Homo sapiens: one gene and its partner. The protein of the gene in region 2 interacts with the protein of the main gene of each other region in a pairwise test. Each region holds a gene or a part of one and is shown on either strand. Other genes may lie near its edges. The genes, in order: ROR2 and PRR23E.

What was found.
Region 1: the proteins of PRR23E (region 2) and ROR2 interact in binary tests that used the Homo sapiens proteins (3 or more experiments, as listed by UniProt).

Annotation. Positions count from the first base shown.
Region 1 is NC_000009.12:91,730,218-91,737,515, reverse strand, and holds part of ROR2 (tyrosine-protein kinase transmembrane receptor ROR2 isoform 1 precursor), read left to right. Parts: coding exon 1-125; intron 126-4,079; coding exon 4,080-4,394; intron 4,395-6,360; coding exon 6,361-6,606; intron 6,607-7,298. UniProt on the Homo sapiens protein: Tyrosine-protein kinase receptor which may be involved in the early formation of the chondrocytes. It seems to be required for cartilage and growth plate development. Phosphorylates YWHAB, leading to induction of osteogenesis and bone formation.
Region 2 is NC_000003.12:127,196,109-127,198,961, reverse strand, and holds the end of PRR23E (proline-rich protein 23E), read right to left. Parts: intron 2,372-2,853; 5' UTR 2,277-2,371; coding exon 1,548-2,276; 3' UTR 777-1,547; downstream 1-776.

The DNA of each region.
Region 1 (7,298 bases), on a different chromosome or scaffold from region 2:
TGATTACCACGAGGATGGGTTCTGCCAGCCTTACCGGGGAATTGCCTGTGCACGCTTCATTGGCAACCGGACCATTTATGTGGACTCGCTTCAGATGCAGGGGGAGATTGAAAACCGAATCACAGGTAGGAGCTGCAGACCTTTCTCCCAGGATGATAAGCATGCACACAGCCATCTGTCGCACAGATGGTGGCCACTGTGTTTCATCAGTTAATGGCATGGTCAGTGGGTGCCTCTTCCATTTCATTTGTGGTAGAAACCAGAGATCTTTTTTAGAAGTAGTGGCAATTGCTAACATGATTTGCCCTAAAAATGTTCCTGGCCTGTATGTTTAAATTAGCAAGTGTGGGTTGCTTGGAATATACTTCTGCACTTTTAACTCAGCCAAACCGTGTGGGTCCAAAGCACTGTCCTCACTGCAACGCCAGGGCCTCCTGCCCCGGGCCTGCCACACTGGCGCAGATAGCCTCAGCGCCCCCACACTCACTCTGCTTGACTTCTCATTCTGTACTTCCTGACTCTTCTATCCTCTCTGAGCCACGTTTGGTCCAAAGGCACCCAGGCCTGATTGCAGCTGTTTTGGGGAAAGAGTCGCGGGTCATCAGTGGTAGGGATGCTGCAGTGAACACACACTTTGTCAGTCCTGGGTTTCCAGAGAACAAAGCCACGTCTTTGGGTACCTGGTTCAGGGTCTGAGAAAGTGGCAAGTCAATTAGGAACTGCAGCTGCTCATCCTTGGTCTCATTAGGACTTAACTTCTCTGATTGGCTGTCCCAGTTCCCAGCATACAACTCGAACACATTGATGGGGTCCGGGGTCCTTCTTAGGGGAAAGGCCTTGGAAAGGAAGAAAATTAATTAGACAATAGTCCTACAGAGCCCTCCTCCTGCTGTCTCTACTCTCTCCACAAACACATACACATTTTCTCTCCAGATCCCATAAGGAGCAAGACACATCCTGTGCAGATGGCCGGTGCCCCAGCACCTCAGTTTAGTTGGATCCTCTCCATGGGAGCGGGAGGCTCTGCTGCAGATTAGAGTCAGTGGGTGATCTCTGATGCCTGCGCTCCTGGGAGAGTGTGGTGGGGCAAAGGGGATACAGGGCACTGACCTGTTAAGGGGTGACAATGAGGATCCAAGGCAGAAAGTCACCTCATGTCACTGACAAGCCCTTCTAAGTTCAGGTCACCCTCGGACTAGAGAGTCGAACATCACATTCACGGTCACAGAAGAGACTGCCTGGCCCATGTGCTGGTACAGAGACCTCTGAGGACAGGGCCAGGGGGTCCTGTGCAAACTGAAAGAGCCATCATGAGACAGAGAGGAACCTGGAGATGCCATCCTGTTCCAGCGGGAGATGGTTTTGAAAATATGGCTACCTCTCACTGCAAAAGCTTTCTTTGCCATTAAAGTAGGACTTCTCAAAGGTTTTTACCGAAACACACAGTGGAAAATAGAGAATATACTTTACGCCATGACTTAGTGTACACATACATGTATTTCACACAACTGACATAGGTTACAGGGAATAACTTTCACCCTTCGTAAAAGCGGTGCACTTGGATTTTTCTTTTCAGTTTTATTTCATTAAATAAAAAAGTGGCCGGGCACGGTGGCTCACGCCTGTAATCCTAGCACTTTCGGAGGCTGAGGCGGGCAAATCACGAGGTCAGGAGTTCAAGACCAGCCTGACCAACATGGTGAAACCCCATCTCTACTAAAAACACAAAAAATTAGCTGGGCATGGTGGCGGGTGCCTGTAATCCCAGCTACTTGGGAGGCTGAGGCAGAAGAATCACTTAAACCCGAGAGGTGGAAGTTGCAGATCGCGCCACTGCACTCCAGCCCCAGAGACAGAGCAAGACTCTGTCTCAAAAAAAAAAAAAAAAAAAAAAAAAAAAAAAAAAAAAGTTAGAGCCCTTAGTAGGAACCGTGCATTCTGACATCCTCTAGTCTGTTCTTACCATCTTTTAAAATGCTAGCTGCAGACTCTCAGAATTAATTAGACACCCTACTAATTGGCAAGCACTGATCCAGGGCACAAGATTGTCCCTCAGTTATCTCTTCAGGAGTTGTTTAAGGAATCAGCTTGCATCCAAGCAGCCTGGTTTTATAGCATCTTTTAGAGAAGAGTTTAGAATGAAGATTTTCTAGGTGGGTGGCTTTTTGAAAACAGTAAATTTGAAGTTGCTCTCAACAGACTTGTGGTTTTGAAATAAGCATAGTAATGACTGCGTTGTGTGCAGTGTTGTGTTGGAAAGTGTTGTGTGACATTCAGGGTGTGGACAGATAACAGGATGTGAGTTGTTGGATCTCTTTGTGCCTAGAATTGCACTTTCAGAAATAAGCAGTACATTCTCAGGGTGAGGAGAAGGAGAAAGAGAAATCCTATAAAGATCAGCAGAGACATCCTATCAGTGGATTAGCCCAAGAGAAGTGACAGCTTTGGCATTCTTAGACAATCTTTCCCTGCCTGGAGGTCAAGGCCTACCTACATTTTTGACAGCCATCCATATAATCCCAAATCTGTAATGATGGGATTGAACAGGGTTGAAGCCTCAGTTCTTCCTCCAAATCCAAGACATCCTGTACTGTAACTGCTTGCCCTCTCTGTTCCTCCATTTAAATATCGGCCACAGGAACCCAGAGGAGGGGAGGTGATGTGATGAGCACAGTAGTGCCTGCACACAATCAGGACAGCGTGGCTGCTCCCGCCCACTGACGCCGCCTTTTACCAGACCCCTGGGCCCATTCACGCTGAGGGCCACTTTATAGGCTCTGTGTGCACTCTCATTCCCCAGTGTGGGGTCTCAAATCACTCTTCAGGTACAGAAACAGGCCCGGAAAGGCATGAGTGATACCACAAAGTGATCACGCACAAGGCTGTTCCCACACAGCTGCCCATCCCGTTCCTGGGTGGGTTCCCAGGGAATGACTGACAGCGGCACTGCCACCTGCTGGCCAAACCTGGCACAGCACTTACACGCTTTCCTTGCCTGGAGGTCAAGGCCAGCATTCTTGACAGCCCTCTGTATAATCACCAAATAATCGCCAAATCTGTAATGATGGGATTGAACTGCATTCGTGGGTGGAGTTAGGGCTCCTCAGGGACTAAATGCCAGCTTCTGGGTTTTCTGCCACGCTGGAGGACACAGCCTCTGCTGGGTGTGCAGGCAAAGGGGCCTGTCTGCCTCCACTGTCCCCAAGCTCAATTGTTGTAAGCCAGCCTTTCACAGGTGAAAATGGGGTAGTGAGCCCAGGGCAGGCTGATGCATTCCTTAGAGCCCTGCCTTGGCCAGCTTCTTCACCCTTACCAGTGTCCAGCCATGCACCCCAGGTGCAGCAGATCTCTCCCCAACACCCCCACTTTGTTCCCGAACTCACCCCATCTTCTAACCACCAAACTGCATCCTCTGACATCTTGCCCTTAAAAAACAAACCGCCCTACCAAAGGGGGCTCTGGATCTTCGGGTTTTTCTGCTCCCCCTTATCACAGAACCTTCCAGAGTTGTAACGCGGCTCTCCTCCCACTTTGCTGCTCTCACCCTCTTGGCTTTCCGCATTTTACCAACTGTCTCCTCCAGCTGCAGTTCACAGAGCTGAGCTGACTCCCTCTTCCGGGACAGCCTTCTCCCCAGACAGATCTGGGACATTGGGAAGCCTGGGGCTCGGTACTGCACTTCTTGGCCTGCGCTCTCCACACATGGCGGGTCCTTAGGATCTGCTTTTGCATCTGAAGTCTGAACCCTCTTGTCCTGGAAGAAGCACCTAGCGGAGTGAGCTAGGGGGCCGAGTTTTCCTTCTTTCTTGTTCTGCTTCTGATGTTTCTAAGTGAGGCCCTGGGACCAGGGACTTTTCTGTGACTGCTGCAAATCAGAGCAGGTGATGGGCAGGCTGGCCTGCTGGTGGGGAGCCTCTCCAGGGTGGTGTGCGGGGCTCGGGGTTGGGGAGTCTGGGGCGGGGCGGGGCATCAGGGGGCTGAGTGGGCAGTCTGGGATGCCAGGCTGGGGGTGGGGACTGGATGAATGTCAAGGGCGCAAGGTGGGTCCCCCGCTAACGCGAGTCTCGCGGGCTCTGCAGCGGCCTTCACCATGATCGGCACGTCTACGCACCTGTCGGACCAGTGCTCACAGTTCGCCATCCCATCCTTCTGCCACTTCGTGTTTCCTCTGTGCGACGCGCGCTCCCGGACACCCAAGCCGCGTGAGCTGTGCCGCGACGAGTGCGAGGTGCTGGAGAGCGACCTGTGCCGCCAGGAGTACACCATCGCCCGCTCCAACCCGCTCATCCTCATGCGGCTTCAGCTGCCCAAGTGTGAGGCGCTGCCCATGCCTGAGAGCCCCGACGCTGCCAACTGCATGCGCATTGGCATCCCAGCCGAGAGGCTGGGCCGCTGTGAGTGCCCGAGGGCCCGGGGCGGGACCGGGGGGCGCAGGGAGTGTAGGGCCCTTGAAATGTGTATGGGGGTGTCGGTGAAGCCCAGGGAGCCCCATCTGTCCAGGCCCCACAGAACCCCCTTAGCAGCCGAGGGCCCCACAGCCTAGGCCTCCATTCCAGCAGGGCAGCAGGCGGGGCCTCGGATCAGGGGCTTTGGAGCCATTCAGCCCCAGGCTCGCATGTGGGCTTGCACTGTGTCCAGCTGTGGGACTCAGGTGAAGTCCCTCCACCTGCTTGAGCCTGGGATTTCCCTTCTCTGAAATGGGAGTGATCTCACTTCCTGTGGAAATGGCTGTTGCGGGCATGAGAGGAGACAGGGCCAGCTTCCTAACTTGCCCGACGGTCAGCACGCACTCGGGCCGCCAGGCGAAAATGCAGACTCTCAACTCCTGCCCCAACCTCCTGAAACCTGGAGGATCAGTCCCCAGAAACCTGTAGGATCCTTAGCCTTGGATGAATGTGAGGCCCACGGAGATGCTGCAGGACTGGCCTGGGAGGGCACCTGAGAAGAACCTGTAACAATCAGGCATCACTAGGGAAGGAAATACAGGGAAGCACCGTGCACCTTTCTACAGGTCCCTGAATCGTGGGGCCTAAGGGATGAGCGTGGGGGAGGGGGACAGTTCTGAGCCCGGGGCCTGGGTGTGGCCTGTTTGGGGTCTGCACAGGACGAAGAGCATGCTCCCCACTGCCCCTCTTGCTGGCAGCAGCCCCTGCCCTCTGGAGGCTTAGTAAACCCCAAGTTGTGAGCCCCAGCAGGGTGGCCATGGCCAGTCAGGATGGCAGACACAGGACAGGGAGCGCTGCTTATGTCTCCGAGGAAAACCATTGGCTGACATCACTGCATCCATACGGGTTGTTGCCTCCCTGAGGAGTGAGACCTAGGGAACGGGCCACCTCCGCCACAGCTCCGGGGCTGTATTTAGCATCGTTGGCTAATCTGGGGGTCCAGGAATGGCCAGGACTCCTTACCAGGACCAGCCAGGGCCTGGTCCTTGGGCCCGTTGCCTGCATTCAGACCCTCATTGTGACCCTGGACAAGTTGCTAAGCTCTCATATCCTTATATTCCGTGGGGATGACACCAGTACTAACCCGTGGGGCTGAAATGAAGGTCAAATGAGGCAATATTTAGGAAGGTGGTTTTTTTGTTTGTTTTGTTTTTTTGAGACAGAGTCTCACTCTGTCACTGAGGCTGGAGTGCAGTGGCATAATCTTGGCTCACTGCAACCTCCACCTCTCAGGTTCGAGCGATTCCCCTGCCTCAGCCTCCTGAGTAGCTGGGACTACAGGCGTGCGTTACCACATCTGGCTAATTTTTGTATTTTTAGCAGGGACGGAGTTTCACCATGTTGGCCAGGCTGGTCTTGAACTCCTGACCTCAAGTGATCCACCCGCCTTGTTAGCCACGGTGCCCCAGCCAGGAGGGTTTAGAGCAGCGCCCCACACATGGTAAACACTACAGAAATGTTCACCAAATGCACACCCCAACCCCAGGGTTCCTCCATGGAGGTGGCGTGGCCTGCACTGTTCTCACCCATGGCTGAGCAGGGTGTCCTGAGATGGAGGGGCCAGGCCCTTCTTGCTTGCACAGTTGGCTTTCTTCCTAGAGCAAGTTGATCCTGAGGCTGGGGAGACATCCCCATTCTGGTGGGGTGGTGGTGTGCAGGTGCCTCGTGGGTCCCAAGAGATGGTTCTGGGGCTGTGGAATAACTTTAGACAAGTTTCCTTCCCCATGCCTATCCCTGATGTGCCCTGCATTTAATTTGTGGGCTTGGGACTTCATTAAGCCATTACTTTTAATGCCTCTTTTCTGGTAAGTTATGTAAAATCCTTGGATCTTTTGGAAATTCTAGTTTGGGCATGTGTAGGCAGAATGGTTTTGTTGTACCCCGGAGGTTTTCCTAACGTGTTTTCCTTGTTCAGACCATCAGTGCTATAACGGCTCAGGCATGGATTACAGAGGAACGGCAAGCACCACCAAGTCAGGCCACCAGTGCCAGCCGTGGGCCCTGCAGCACCCCCACAGCCACCACCTGTCCAGCACAGACTTCCCTGAGCTTGGAGGGGGGCACGCCTACTGCCGGAACCCCGGAGGCCAGATGGAGGGCCCCTGGTGCTTTACGCAGAATAAAAACGTACGCATGGAACTGTGTGACGTACCCTCGTGTAGTATGTATTCTCTCTCTCTTTTTTTAATGTGTTGATTGTTGAGTGAACCTTGTGATGAGGGCGTTCTGTCCTGACCTGGGTTGGGGTGTGCCTCTGTACGGTGGCGACCAGAGACCCCTGATCTTACCACAGTGACCATTTTAAATAAAGCTGTTGGGCCACGCGTAGTGGCTGATGCCTATAATCCCAGCACTTTGGGAGGCCGAGGTGGGCAGATCACTTGAGGTCAGGAGTTCAAGACCAGCCTGGTCAACATGGTGAAACCCCATAAAAATACAAAAATTAGCCAGGTGCGGTGGCACATGCCTGTAATCCCAGCTACTCAAGAGACTGAGGCAGGAGAATCACTTGAGCCTGGGAAGCGGAGGTTGCAGTGAGCCAAGATTGTGACACTGCACTCCAGCATGGACAGCAGAGTGAGACCCTGTCTCAAAAATAAATAAATAAATAACGCAAGTTATTGGTTGTTATGAAAGTAACATCTGACCATTACAAGACATTTTAAAATATAGAAAAGTCTGAAGAGTAATGTCAGATCACCCCTAATGTTACCACCCAGTAGTGACTTGTTTGCGTTTTGGCCCACCCCCTTCCATCAGCCCTTTTCCCATGTATGGATGGTCCTGGGATATTCACTTTGACATTTTGTTTCTCCATTAACATTATCTCCCAGTGCGGTGGCTCACAACCTG
Region 2 (2,853 bases):
TGTACCCAAAAAAGATGAAATCACCACCTCATAAAGATACCTGCACTCCCATGTTCATGGCAGCATTATTTACAATAGCCAAGATATGGAAACAACCCAAATGCCTATCAATGGATGAATGGATAAAGAAAATATGATTATATCCATATATATATAATGGATATAGAGTATTATTTAGCCTTTAAAAAGGAGATCGTGCCATTTGCCATAACATGCATGGAGAATGATGAAATAAGTCAGACACAGAAAAAAAAATTGCACAGCTTCCCTTATATGTGGAATATTAAAACAGAACAAAGAGCTAAAATACAGAGATAGAGAAAGAAGCAGTGGTTCCCATGGGCTGGGAGTGGGGAAACCAGGATATGTAAGTCGAAGGATACTAAATATACATAGGCTGAGCAAGCCTAGAGCTCTAAGGTACAGCATGAGGAATAAAGCTAATGAAATGGCATTGTACTAGGGGTTTTTGTCAAATAAGTAGATTTTAGCTCCTCTTATCACCAAAAAAAAGTAGCCGTGAGATGACAGATGTTAGTCGGCTTCACTATGGTAACCATTTTACTACCTGTATGTATCCCATAACATCACGTTGTAAACCTCAAATATACACAATAAAATTTTAAAGAAAAATGGAATACAGCACATAACAAGAAATACAGCAAGAAATAGTATGGAAAACACGCTAATAAATTTGAATAAGCAAAATACACTATACATATATACAGATATGGCTAGGTCTTAAACTAATGAATGAAAAATTGGAGAAAACATGATTTATAGCATAGTATCATTTATTTAAAAATTTTTAAAAGCATGCACTGTACATTTTACTGGTGTGTGCATTACCCCAGAAGGTGCTGATGGGGTGAGGAGTGAGAAGAGCACACCCGCAAGGACCCAAGGGCACTAGCGCTCTGAACGAGTCAGCATTTCCTACTCTGTGTCCACTGGAACAAACAGGTTTTGGAAGCTTCTAGGCAGAGCCCACAGCACGTGCTCACTGGATTCCATGGGTTCCAAAGTGCTTGAGTGTGTGGTTCCCTGGAGGACACACCAATGCTGGAAGAGACAGCAGCAGGCCCCACAGGGTGGCCAGGGATGCGGGGATCCTGCTGAGGGTCTTTGCTGAGGAGGGGCAGAGAGAGTCCTGGGCTGGAGGGTGGCACAGGTGCCCAAATACCAAACCTGGAGGCCTATTCTAACTGAGCGCTTCTACAGGTTGGATTGAGCTTAAATAAGCTCATTTTACAAGGTTGCATGCATGCATGTTTGAGGACTCACAGCAAATCTACTAGAGGGCGGGCCCAGGACAGTCTGGGGAGGAGAAAAGGTGCCAGTATCAGGGTTGAAGGGCAAACAGAAAAACAAAGTAAAGAGAAATAGCAAATAGAGGGGCCTTGCATGAGTCCAGGAGGTGTACTCTGTACTGAAGAATAGTAAACAACCTACATCTGAGACTCTTCCAAAAACTTAAAGTCCACAGCTGGCTGGGCTCCACCAGACATGTCTCTGATTGTTGGGTGGGTCTGGGTCTAGAGGGCTGATTAGCACTCAAAGAGGCGGCGGCGGGCCCTGCAGGGTGACCGGGAGGAGGAGCGGGAGCAGCCCGGGTCCAGCTGAGAATCTTCAATGGGGGAAGGGGGCAGAGGGCGGAGCTCTGAACTGCAGCAGGGCAAAGGTGCCCAAATACCGAACCTGGAGGCCCATTCTGAGGGAGGGGCTTTGCATGTCTTCAAGTAGGGAGCTCCTCTGGATGGCCCCTCTACGGCAGCCCTGGGGGCTGAGCTGGCTGGAGTCCAGCATCCCACCTGGGGACAGTGGCTGGAGGTGGCCCCGCCCAGAGTGGGAGAAGCCAAGGAGTAGGTGGGTGGGAATTTCATGGGGAAAGGAAATAGGTTGGGGGCCAAGGCAGCCAGATACGGACTTCCTATGAGGGGGTCAAAGCTGGAGGCGCCCCTCCAATACAGCCACACTGAAGGCACCAAGGCAGCTGGAGGGGGATAACCCATCCAGAGATACCCACCATAGAGCACCCACGGGTAAGCCCAGAAGGCTGGGTAAGCTTGTGGGGAAAATCCCATGCAGGAGTAGATGACAGGCCAGAGGGCCAGGTCAGTTACAGGCTGGGCTCCCAAGCAGGTACAGGAACCATAGGCAGAGCCCATGGCCACCCAGGGGGTTGAGGCTGCCAGAGTCCCGTGGGCTTCCTCGGAGGCCTCGAAGGCACGGCGGACCTTCTGCTCTGCTTGTTTCTCTGATGCACCTGTGCCCATCTTAGATGAGCTGTGCTCTTCAAAGCCCCGAAGTGTCTGGCAAGTGCACTCCTCTGCAAGCTGAGGCCACACGCACCTCACGGGGCTCCTGGTATCTGTGGGGTGAGCAGACAGCCAGTCAGAGGGCAGGGAGACCAGGTCGCACAGGAGGGGATGGGAGGAGGGGGACAGCTGGGGGTGAGGTGACAGAAGAGCCAAGATCAAGGCATCTCCAGGGAGGATGGGGAGCAAGGTGTCCTGGGTAGGAACGAGTGGCCCCTGCAGTGGGAGGGGTGCACAGCAGCCACGTGAGGCATTTTCTAGGGACATCAAAACAAGTTCCAAATTCAGTTCCTCATGCTTCCCTCTATGCAAGTCACAGAGACCAAAGACTGGAGAGTATGGATGGCCAAGTCTGTTGGAGACCTGCTGGAGGGAGAGTTAAAGATTCAGCAAAGCCCCTAAGCTGACAGATGAAGGAACAGCAAAGCCAGAAATCCACAGGGGCCACCCCAGTGCAGGGGCTGCTGAAGGGGCAGACAGGTCCCGGAGCACTTCATCCTTGACAGATGCTTGCCCCACAAAGCAGGACCTCCCA